Linked DNA regions of Homo sapiens: region 2 is linked to region 1. The links come from fine-mapping of genetic effects on gene expression. A gene starts in region 1. The other region holds a variant in brackets. All regions are shown on one strand. Distances are between the middles of the regions. Region 1 holds the start of CEBPG (CCAAT enhancer binding protein gamma). Region 2 has its middle 20 kb from the start of CEBPA-DT.

Region 1 (5,377 bases):
GATCAAATCCAAGGTCCTGACCCTCTCTCCTCCCTCACACCACATCTTGACAGTACTAAACCACTATCTGTATCCTAAATGGTCTGTGCTTTCTCTTTTCTTTGGGCATCTGGGAAAATTTGTTCCCTAGGTCTGTCAACTCCAGCCGCATCGTGTCTCCCTGCAGATCTTCACAAGCATCTAGCGCAGGGTCCATGAGGAAGGGGACGTCCCCTTTCTGGGAGTACAGAAGTGGGTCACTGGAGCATTAGAAGAACATCAACATCATCTTTCTAACCCAATCCTTTTGAAGTGATTTACAACACACAAAACAAATAGACTATTTGTAAATGAACATCCATTAGGAGGTCATGCTCATTTTTGTCTTTTTTTTACTGATAGAGCTAGAAAGCCACAAACGCAGGAGGCCAGTGTACCTATCAATATAACAACCCATGGAACCAACCCTCCCAAGAACGCACAATACAGCTGGAATCGTGGCTACCTGTATTTACCATTACTGTGACCAAGTGAGGCAATCTTAGACCACGAGACCAAATTCAGCCCCACGAGGTCCTATTTGTCTTTACCAGGGGCTCAGCACATAGTGTTTAATTTCCCAGGGATGAAACCATCTCTCCAAGATCAGACAGCCTTGCAGACAGACATGATGTGATCTTGAGAATTTAAAGGATATTCTCAATGAAGTTTTGTTTCCATCTACTTTTTTTAAAAGCAGGTATTAAAAATAACTGAACCAGCCAAGTGTGCCCACCAAAAGCAGGAATCAAGAAGCTGAAATATGCTTCAGCTCCCTTGTACCCTGTAATTATTTAGCCTTGTTTACAGCAACTTTTTCCAGAAGCAGAATCGACCTTATGAACAGCTTATCCCAAATACTACTCAAGGGCTAACAGATGACCACATCTTAAATATCAAGAGCTTCTAGGTGTAGAATGTCTTCGTAAAGCAAGCCCTTATAGGATTTTCTTTTAAAATTTTCTCTGGGAGTCACATTTCTTTGGGAGAAGTCTGCCTTAAGTGACAACCTATTCATATAAGCAGTCAATTCTGACACAACTACCAATTTTGGTGTCACCCATCAACATTGAGACCTTTCTAAATCTTATACATTTCAGGATGCCAGATTACAGTATAAACTTCAAACAAGAGGAAAACCCAACACGTAAACCTGCGGAAGAGAAGCAACACACCAGCTGCCCTGGAAAACACTCTCCTCCCCCCGCGACACATGCATTTCCATCCTTCGCATCTGGTCACCTCCGCTGGCTGTCGGCCCTGCTCCGCTCCCTCCAACTATGCCTGCGAAGTGCTTCATTTCTTCTCTATTCGACCCGTAGGTGTTGCGTGTTCTTCTAAACTACGTTCAACAGTAAAGTGCAGGACATTCCAACAGCTCCACAAAGAAGCAAAATATTATCTCTGCAAAGTCATGCATTTAAAAACCAGTTGCTTTCCCTATTTTATTGATCAGTCTTTGAACTTCTGAACAGATTTTCGATCACCGCAAGCTGAGCCCTTCTAGAAGATCAGGATTCTAAAGCTCGACTCGGTCCACCTTCTGCTATTCTGGGAACACCCTTCATCCCCAGGGGCCAATGCGAGCCTGGCGGGTCACAGCGCCCGTTTCACCGAGAGGGGGCCGGGCTCCGCAGGGGGCATTCCCCGGCCGTTCGCGCGCTCCCGGCCCGCCGCGAGGGGCGCCCCGGGCAGCGCGGGGGTCGACGGGCGGCGCCGCAGCGCTGGGCCGCGGCCAGGAATGAGCTCAGCGTCCCCGCCGGGTGTTGCCGGCAGGTTGCATCAGACGCCGCGCGGCGCCGCCGCCCGCGCCTCCAGCCTCGCGTGGCCTTCCCGGGCCAGCGGGCCGTCTGGGGCCGGGGCTGGGTTTCCCCGAGCCGGGCCCGCACCCAGTCGAGCGGCCGGCGTCGCCGCGGCCTCCTCCTCCCCGTTCTCAGGGCGCCCGCCGCAGCCTCCTTACCTGCTCCTCTAGCCCGCCTGCCCCCAGGCGGCCTCCACTCCGAGCGGCCCCGCGCGGTGCGGCCCGAGCCGACCCAGGCCTCACAGCCCGCGAGTCAGCGAGGAGGAGCGACGGTTACGAAACCGGCAGCCTCCGCCCGTTCCGCAGCCGCGGCCACCGGCTTCCCCTGCTCGCCGGGGCCGCGCGCGCCGCCGCCGCCATCCCGGCCAATGGGAGCGCCGGCCTGCCGGAGGCACCGCCTTCTCTCGCGACGGGCAGCCCAGTCGACCAATCGTGGGCAGGCTGGCGGCGGGAGGCGGGCCCACGGTGGGGGAGTGGGTTCCGCGCGGCTGGCTCGGCGGGTGTGGCGGGAGCAGGGAGCTGCTTGCTGCGGCGTCCGCGGTCCCTAGGCAGCTCGCCCGGGCTGGCGGCGGCCTAGTGCTGTGGACGACTCAAGTTCGAGTCGGAGGCTGAAAAGCCGTCACCTTGTGGAGGCCAGACGTGCCTTTGGAAGCATTTTCTGAGGTGGTTTTGTGAACCACCGGCGACTGTTTTGGTTTCGCCGCGTCCCTTGGAAGCCCCCGCGGCGTCCCTCACAGAGTTTCTGCGAACGGAACGCCCCGCAGGCGGGCGGGCTTTGTCGCCGCAAAAAGAGTGGAGGCTGACGCGGTGGCTCCCGCCTATAATCTCAGCGCCGAGGGAGGCCGAGGCGGGAGAATGGCTTGAGCCCAGGCGTTGGAGAACCAGCCTGGACAACATAGCGAGACCCCATCTCAGTTACTAATTTTTAAAAAATCGAATGAACCCAGATGTTTCACACATAGGATTAGCATTGATGTCACATGGGTGAAATCCATGTGCTGCAGGCTGTGCTTTGTTGTTAGGGTGAGATGAAGTGAATTTCTTAAAATGATTCTCTTTGGGTGCCTTCCAGGTGCATGGGTGCGAGGTGATCTCTGAAAATAAGCAGCGATCCAGTGTGACTTAAAACTCGCCAGGAGAACCCGAAAGCGTTTTTTTTTTTTTTTTTTTTGAGACGGAGTCTCGCTCTGTCGCCCAGGCTGGAGTGCAGTGGCGCAATCTCGGCTCACTGCAAGCTCCGCCTCCCGGGTTCACGCCATTCTCCTGCCTCAGCCTCCCAAGTAGCTGGGACTACAGGCGCCCGCCACTACGCCCGGCTAATTTTTTGTATTTTTTTAGTAGAGACGGGGTTTCACCGTTTTAGCCGGGATGGTCTCGATCTTCTGACCTCGTGATCCGCCCGCCTCGGCCTCCCAAAGTGCTGGGATTACAGGCGTGAGCCACCGCGCCTGGCCCCGAAAGCGTTTTAACACCAGGAAGCAGCAGCTCGCTGGGCGGAGGGCAGAACTCGCCTGATAGGTTTAATTGCTTCCTCTTTAGCAACGCGTATCGTTCAAACAATTGAGGCTTTGAAAGAGGAAATGTTTCTTCAGCGCCCATGGAACCGGCTCGCCCCGTAAGATTGTTTCGAGGAATCAGTAAGATGATAAAGCAATAAATAAAAATTAAAAGGGGTCACAACGGTGAACAATGGGCTGGGCGCGGTGGCTCAGGTCTGTAATCCCAGCACTCTGCGAGGCCGAGGCAGGCTGATCACTTCAGGTCGGGAATTAGAGACCAGCCTGGGCAACATGGAAAAACCCCATCTCTACCAAAAATACAGAAGATTAGCCGGGTGTGGTGGCGCTGTGCCTGTGGTCCCAGCTACTCTGGAGTCTGAGATGGGAGGATGGCTTGAGCCTGAGAGGCGGAGGTTGCAGTGAGCTGAGATTGAGCCACTGCACTCCAGCCTGAGCCACAGAATGAGATCCCTGTCTCCAAAAAAAAAAAAACAGGTAATAATGCTCACAGATGCACACTTAGGAGAATAAGTGTCATTGAAACAAGTGTGTTTCTTCACGTTGGCTCTCAGTATTCTCAGCTTAAATTTCTTTTCTTCTTTTTTTTTGAGACGATCTTGCTGTGTTGCCCCAGCTGGAGTGCAATGGCACTGCCACAGCTTGATCACAGCTCACTGCAGCCTCGACTTCCTGGGCTCAAGCCATCCTCCCACCTCAGCCTCCCAAGTAGGTGGGATTACAGGCATGCACCACCACACCTAGCTAATTTTTTAAAAATGTTTTGTAGAGACAAGGTCTCACCATATTGTCCACTCTGGTCTCAAACTCCTGGGCTCAAGTGATCTTTCTGTCTCGGCCTCCCAGATTGCTGGGATTAAGGGTGTGAGTAACCAAGTCCTGCCTGAACTTGCTTTGATCAAGATTTTAGTACTATTAAAATAGGATTGTGATTTATTGCTCACAAAATCATAATTTTACCCTGAATATTTCCTAATCACTTAAAAAATGTGTAAGGGGGCCAGACACAGTGGCTCACGCCTGTAATCCCAGCACTTTGGGAGGCCGAGGCAGGCGGATCACCTGAGGTCAGGAGTTTGAGACCACCCTGGCCAACATGGTGGAACCCTGTCTCTACTAAAAATATAAAAATTAGCCAGGCGTGGTGGCGGGTGCCTGTAATCCCAGCCACTCGGGAGCCTGAGGCAGAAGAATTGCTTGAACTCGGGAGGCAAATGTTGGCAGTGAGCTGAGATCACGCCACTGCACTCCAGCCTGGGTGACAGCAAGACTCCATCTCAAAAATAAAAAAATAAAAATAAAAAAGGAAAGAAAAGAAAAAAGAAAAATGTGTAAGGGGAAAAAAAAGAACTTGCATAGGTATATTCAGTTATCCTTTGGTTTGCAAACCGCCCTGCCAAGCTGTTCCAGCATTCTTTGTATCTGTGTCTGGGCAGGCCTTCTTACACACCCAGCAAGTCTAGTCAGTGCCCAGGACACTCGGGTATTTATTTTCTTTTCAGCTGGTAGCTGGTAGTTTTTCTTCTACTCAGTTTACAAGTATGCATTTGGTGCCAACTATGTACTAAGCCGTAGGCTAAGTGTTGGAGATTCAGCAATGAGCAAGACAAACACACAGTCACTGCCCACATGGAACTTACACTTACAGCCAGGCAGACAGGCGTTTGGTAATTACACAATTTTTCTTTCTGTCACCTATGCTGGAGTGCAGTGGGGCAAGCATGGCTCACTGCAGCCTGGACCTCCTGGGCTCAGGTGATCCTCCCACCTCAGCCTCCCAAGCAACTGGGACTACAAGGCATGCGCCACCATGCTTGGCTAATTTTTGTATTTTTTGTAGCAATAGGGTTTCACCATGTTGCCCAGGCTGGTTTCGAACAGCTGAGGTCAAGTGATGCACCCACCTCGGCCTTTTAAAGTGCTAGGATTACAGGCATGAGCTACCTCCCCTGGTCCACAATTTTTCAATTACCATTTTCATAGATACTACAAGAAAGCAGTACAAGACGCTGTGAGAAATCAGAAGCGAACCAGACCTAGT
Region 2 (5,377 bases), 50 kb after region 1:
ATTGCTTGAGCCCGGGAGGCAGAGGTTGCAGTGATCTGAGACTGTGCCGCTGCACTCCAGCCTGGGCGACAGAGCAAGACTGTCTCAAAACAAACAAACAAACAAAAACGTAAAATGTACTATATAAATAAACTTTAATTCTACAGCACATGATAATATGCTAAACTAAGACAATACATGGCCAAATAGACAACTTTTAAACAATTTTAGTGATTTGTCATTAACAAACTGTTAAATTTTGCAAGTTCCCTTTTTTTCAGCTGCCAGATCAGGTAAATTTATAAGAACTTCAACCAAGAAAATCAGCTACTTGCTGTTTACAAGAGCTATGGGTAAAACAAACTAAAAATAAAGCCCTTGAAATAAAAAGATGTAAAAAATACACCAGACAGCCTAAGAAAAATAACTCAGAGTGAAAACATTAGGGAATTTCATATTCATTAACCTTATAAGTAATCAGGAAAATAGAAGTTAAAGCAACAATGAGCTATCAAACAAACAAAATTTAAAAGTATTAATATCCATTATTTGATATTACAAAATGTTATTGAAAGATGTATGTATTTACTGCTGGTGAGTGTGTGAAACTGTGTAGCCTTTCTAAAAAACAATGTGTAGTATCTGTTACATTTTATTTTTCTTTTCTTTTTTTTTTTTTTTTAAGAGACAGGGTCTTGCTCTGTCACCCCTCCAGGAGTGCAGTGGTGTGATCATAGCTCACTGCAGCTTTGAACTCTCGGGCTCAAGCAATCCTCCCACCTCAGCCTCCAAAGCAGCTGGGACCACAGGTGTGTGCCACCACACCCAGCCAAGTTTTTAGACGTAGGGTCTTACTATGTTGCCCAGGCTGGTTTCCAACTCCTGGCTTTAAGTGATCCTTCCACCTTGGCCTCTCAAAGTGCTGGGATTACAGGTGTGAGCCACTGCTCCCGGCCTCTGTTAAATTTTAAACCCCACACCCTTTGACCCAACAATTTCACTACTAAGTATTAAGCCTACACACATCTTTGCTATATAATATTATACCATGCAGTATTTTTTAAAGCAAAGGAAGATCTCTATGTAATAACACAGAGGGATCTCCAAAACACAATGTTAAGTGAAAAAGCAAGCAGCAGAGCAATACATACCACACGAACCCTTTTATTTTTAAAGTCAGAAAACTAAATGATGTATCTACATCTTCTTATTTACGTTCATACCTATACATCACAAAAAAAGGTGAAGAAAGATTTGCATTAAACTGATGACAGTGGCTTCCTCTTAGAACTGCGGTAGGATTCAAAATTTGGGATAAGGGGGTAATTTAAAATGTTTTCCTCTACGCCTTGCTATACTTTGATTTTCTTAAAAATAAAATACACATATATCATCTGTACAACTTAAAAATTAAAAATTAAAAGGGCTGGGCCCACTGGCTCCCACCTGTGATCTTAGCACTTTGGGAGGCCAAGGCAGGAGAATTGCTTGTGGCCAGGAGTTTGAGACCAGCGCGGGCAACAAAGCAAGACTCCATCTACAAAAAAAAAATTTTTTTAATAGCTGGGCATGGTGGTACATGCCTGTAGTCCCAGCTTCTCAGGAAGCTGAGGTGGGAGGCTCGCTTGAGGCCAGGAGTTTGAGGCAGCTTAGGAGTTCGAGGTTGCAGTGAACTAAGAAGGTGCCATTGCACTCCAGCCTGAGTGACAGGGTGAAGCCCCACCTCTCAATAAAATAAAATAAACTCTTTTTCTTGTTTTGTAATGTTATTGGTAACTTCTTTACTGAGATATAATTCCCACACCATACAATTCACCCATTTTAAGTGTACAATTTAATGATTTTTTTGTATATTCACAGAGTTGTGCAACTATCAGTACAATTTTAGAACATTTTCTTCACTCTCCAAACCAGCTGTGTCCCCTTTAGCTATCATGTGCCACCCCCAATCACCCCCTCCTCACAGCCCTAGGCAGCCATTAATCTCCTCTATGTCTCCATAGATTTGCATGTTCAGGACACTTCATATAAATGGACTCATAGACTGTGTCATCTTTTGTAACTGTCTCTGCCACTTTGCATAATATGTTCAAGGTCCATCTGTGTGGTAGCACATATCAGCATGTTATTCCTTTTCACAGCTAAGTAATATTCCATCATGTGGATATACCACATTTTGTTTATCCTTTCAGCAGTGGGTGAGCATTTAGATTGGTTCCACCTTTTACCTGTTATTAATAATACTAC[T/C]ATAAGTATTCATGTATGAGATTGTGTGTGGACATATGATATGGTTTGACTGTGTCCCCACCCAAATCACATCTTGAATTGTAGGTCCCATGATTCCCACGTGTTGTGGGAGGGACTCAGGAGATAACTGAATCATGGATGCAGGTCTTTCCCGTGCTGTTCTCGTGATAATGAGTAAGTCTCACGCGATCTGATGGTTTTATAGAGGAGAGTTTCCCTGCAAGAGCCCTCTCTTCCCTGCCAGCATGTAAGACATGCCTTTTGCCTTCTGTCATGATTATGAAGCCTCCCCAGCCACGTAGAACTGTGAGTCCATTAAACCTCTTCTTTTCTTTATAAATTACCCAGTCTCAGGTATGTCTTTATCAGCAGCATGAAAACAGACTAATACAACATATTTTCATTTCTCTTGCCTATATACCTAGGCATGGAATTGCTGGGTCAAATGGCAGCTCTTTTTGAGAAATTGCCAGAGTGCTTTCCTAAGTGGCCACACCATTTTACATCCCCACCAGCAGGGTATGAGGGTATCAGTCTCCCCACGCTAACACTTACTAGCCGTCTTTTTTATTACAGGCTTCCTAGTGGCTGTGAAGTGAGTAGCCCATTGTGTTTTTACTTGCATTTCCTTGAGGAATAATGATGTTGAGCGCCCTTTCATGTGCTTATTGGCCAGGTGTAGAACTTTTTTGGAGAAATGTTTATTCAAATCCTTTGTCCACTTTTTTTTTTTTTTTTTTTTTTTTTTGAGACGGAGTCTCGCTGTGTCACCCCAGGCTGGAGTACAGTGGCGCAGCCTCGGCTCACTGCAAGCTCCGCCTCCCGGGTTCACGCCATTCTCCTGCCTCAGCCTCTCCGAGTAGCTGGGACTACAGGCGCCTGCCACCACGCCCGGCTAATTTTTTTTTATTTTTAGTAGAGACGGGGTTTCACCGTGGTCTCGATCTCCTGACCTCGTGATCCACCCGCCTCGGCCTCCCAAAGTGCTGGGATTACAAGCGTGAGCCACCGCGCCCGGCCTTTGTCCACTTTTTAATTGGGATAATTTTATTCTTGGGTTGTAAGAGTTCTTTATGTATTCTAGATATAAGTCCCTTATTAGAGGTACAATTTGCACGTATTTTCTGCCATTGTTTAGTCGTTTCACTTTCTTGTTTGTTTTGTTTTGTTTTTTGTTTTTGAGACAGCATCTCCCTCTGTCACCCATGCTGGAGTGCAGTGGCACAATCATGGCTCCCTGCAGCTTCAAACTCCTAGGCTCAAGTGATTCTCCCACATTAGCTCCAGGGTAGTTGGGACTATAGGTATGCACCACACACCTGGCTAATTTTTTTTTTTTTGAGAGACAGGGTCTTGCTATGTTGTCCAGGCTGGTCTCAAACTCTCAGCCTCAAGCAGTCCTTCCACCTCAGCCCCCCCAAAGTGCTGGGACTACAGCATGGGCCACCAAGCCTAGCCAACTTTCTTATTAGTGTCATTTGAAGCATACAAATTTTTAATTTTGATGAAGTCCAATTTATCTATATTTATTTTGTTGCTTATGCTTTGGGTGTCATATCTGAGAAACCATTTTGCCTAACCAAGGTCATAAAGAATTACTTATTTGTTTTCTTCTAAGAATCTCATAGTTTTTGCTCTTACATTTAGGTCTTTGATCCATTTTGAATTAATTTTTGTATATGGTGTGAGGTAGGGGTCCAGCTTCATTCTTTCACATATAGATATCCAGTTGTCCCAGCACCATATATTGAAGAGACTATTTTTTTCTGCCACTGAATGCTTTTGGCACCCTTGTTGAAAAATCAATTTACCATTAATATATGGATTTATTTCTGGACTCTCAATTCTTTTCCATTGATCTATATGTCTAACCTCATGCCAGTACCACACTGTCTTGAATACCTTTGCTTTGTAGTAAGTTTTGGAATCAGGAAGTTTAAGTCCTCCAAACATTTTTCTTCTATTCAAGATTATGTTGGCTATTTTAAGTCCCTTGATTTTCACATGAATTTTAGGATCAGCAGTGTGTCCATTTCTATTACATAAAGAAACCAGTTGAGATTCTTATAGGGATTGCATTGAATAAAATAAACTTTTTAAATGGTAGATATCATTATGTCAATATTGTTTTATGGAAATGGGAATAAAGTATCGTGTCACTAAGTGGTTTCATGAGACTAAACTTGCAGGAGTTAATAGATGTCAATGTCTCTCATCACTTAGATCCAGAATTGCAAAATTCTCATTATTTTGCTTACTATGTACCTTTATTTTTCTTTCTTTCCTTTTTTTTTTTTTTTTTTTGAGATGGAGTTTCACTCTTGTCACCCAGGCTGGAGTGCAAAGGCATGATCTCGGCTGACTGCAACCTCTGCCTCTTGAGGTTCAAGTGATGATTCTCCTGCCTCAGCCTCCTGAGTGGCTGGGATTACAGGCATGCACCACCATGTCTGGCTAATTTTTGTATTTTTAGTAGAGGCGGAGTTTCACCATGTTGGCTGGGCTGGTCTCAAACTCCTGACCTCAGGTGATCCACTTGGCTTGGCCTCCCAAAGTGCTGGAGTTACAGGCATGAGCCACTGTGCCTGGTCCCTACATACCTTTCAAAACCACACTTGTTTTTTCTCCATCTCTGCTCTACTTTCCTGGTTTAGGCCCCCAGCATTTCTAATCTGCATTACTACAGCATCTCCCAGAAGTTACTCTGCCTTCACTCTGGTCTCCTCTAAACCATTCTCTAAGCTGCAGTCAGAATTGTCTCTCTAAAGCCCAGAGAAAATCCTGTATCCTCCCTTTGAAAAACACATTAGTGACTATCCATGACTGTCAAGATAAAGTTCAAATGAGCACACTGATAAGCCCCTTCCACATCTGGCTTCTACTTGTCTGTTGCTCATCTCCCATTCCTCCTCAGTAATACCAACCCAATCCTATATTTCAGACTTGCCAAAAAACTGCAGGACCAGAACACATCAGGCAATTTCATGCCTCCCTGTGCTGGCACACATATGACCTTTGCCTGGAATGCCCTCCCTTACCACCTTTCTGAAAAATTCTTAGTCATCTTTTAAGACTTGGCTCAAATATTATTTTCACTCTTTTGATGATGATGATGATGATGGCAGAATACACATTTGGTGTTAAAATTTAA

Evidence for each region. PIP is the estimated chance that this variant, and not a neighbour inherited with it, causes the effect.
Region 2: its variant is the best candidate, but not a certain one, in a credible set for the expression of CEBPG in sun-exposed skin (GTEx, PIP 0.59).

The regions. Positions count from the first base shown.
Region 1 is chr19:33,370,497-33,375,873 of GRCh38, reverse strand. CEBPG (CCAAT enhancer binding protein gamma) reads right to left here and starts at 2,165. Exons shown (of 2, transcript NM_001806.4): 1 at 1,979-2,165. RefSeq lists a silencer at 1,569-2,378.
Region 2 is chr19:33,320,338-33,325,714 of GRCh38, reverse strand. No RefSeq gene overlaps it. Among named protein-coding and RNA genes, the nearest start is that of CEBPA-DT, 20 kb to the right of the region's middle. The variant T/C (reference allele first, on the strand shown) is at 2,227.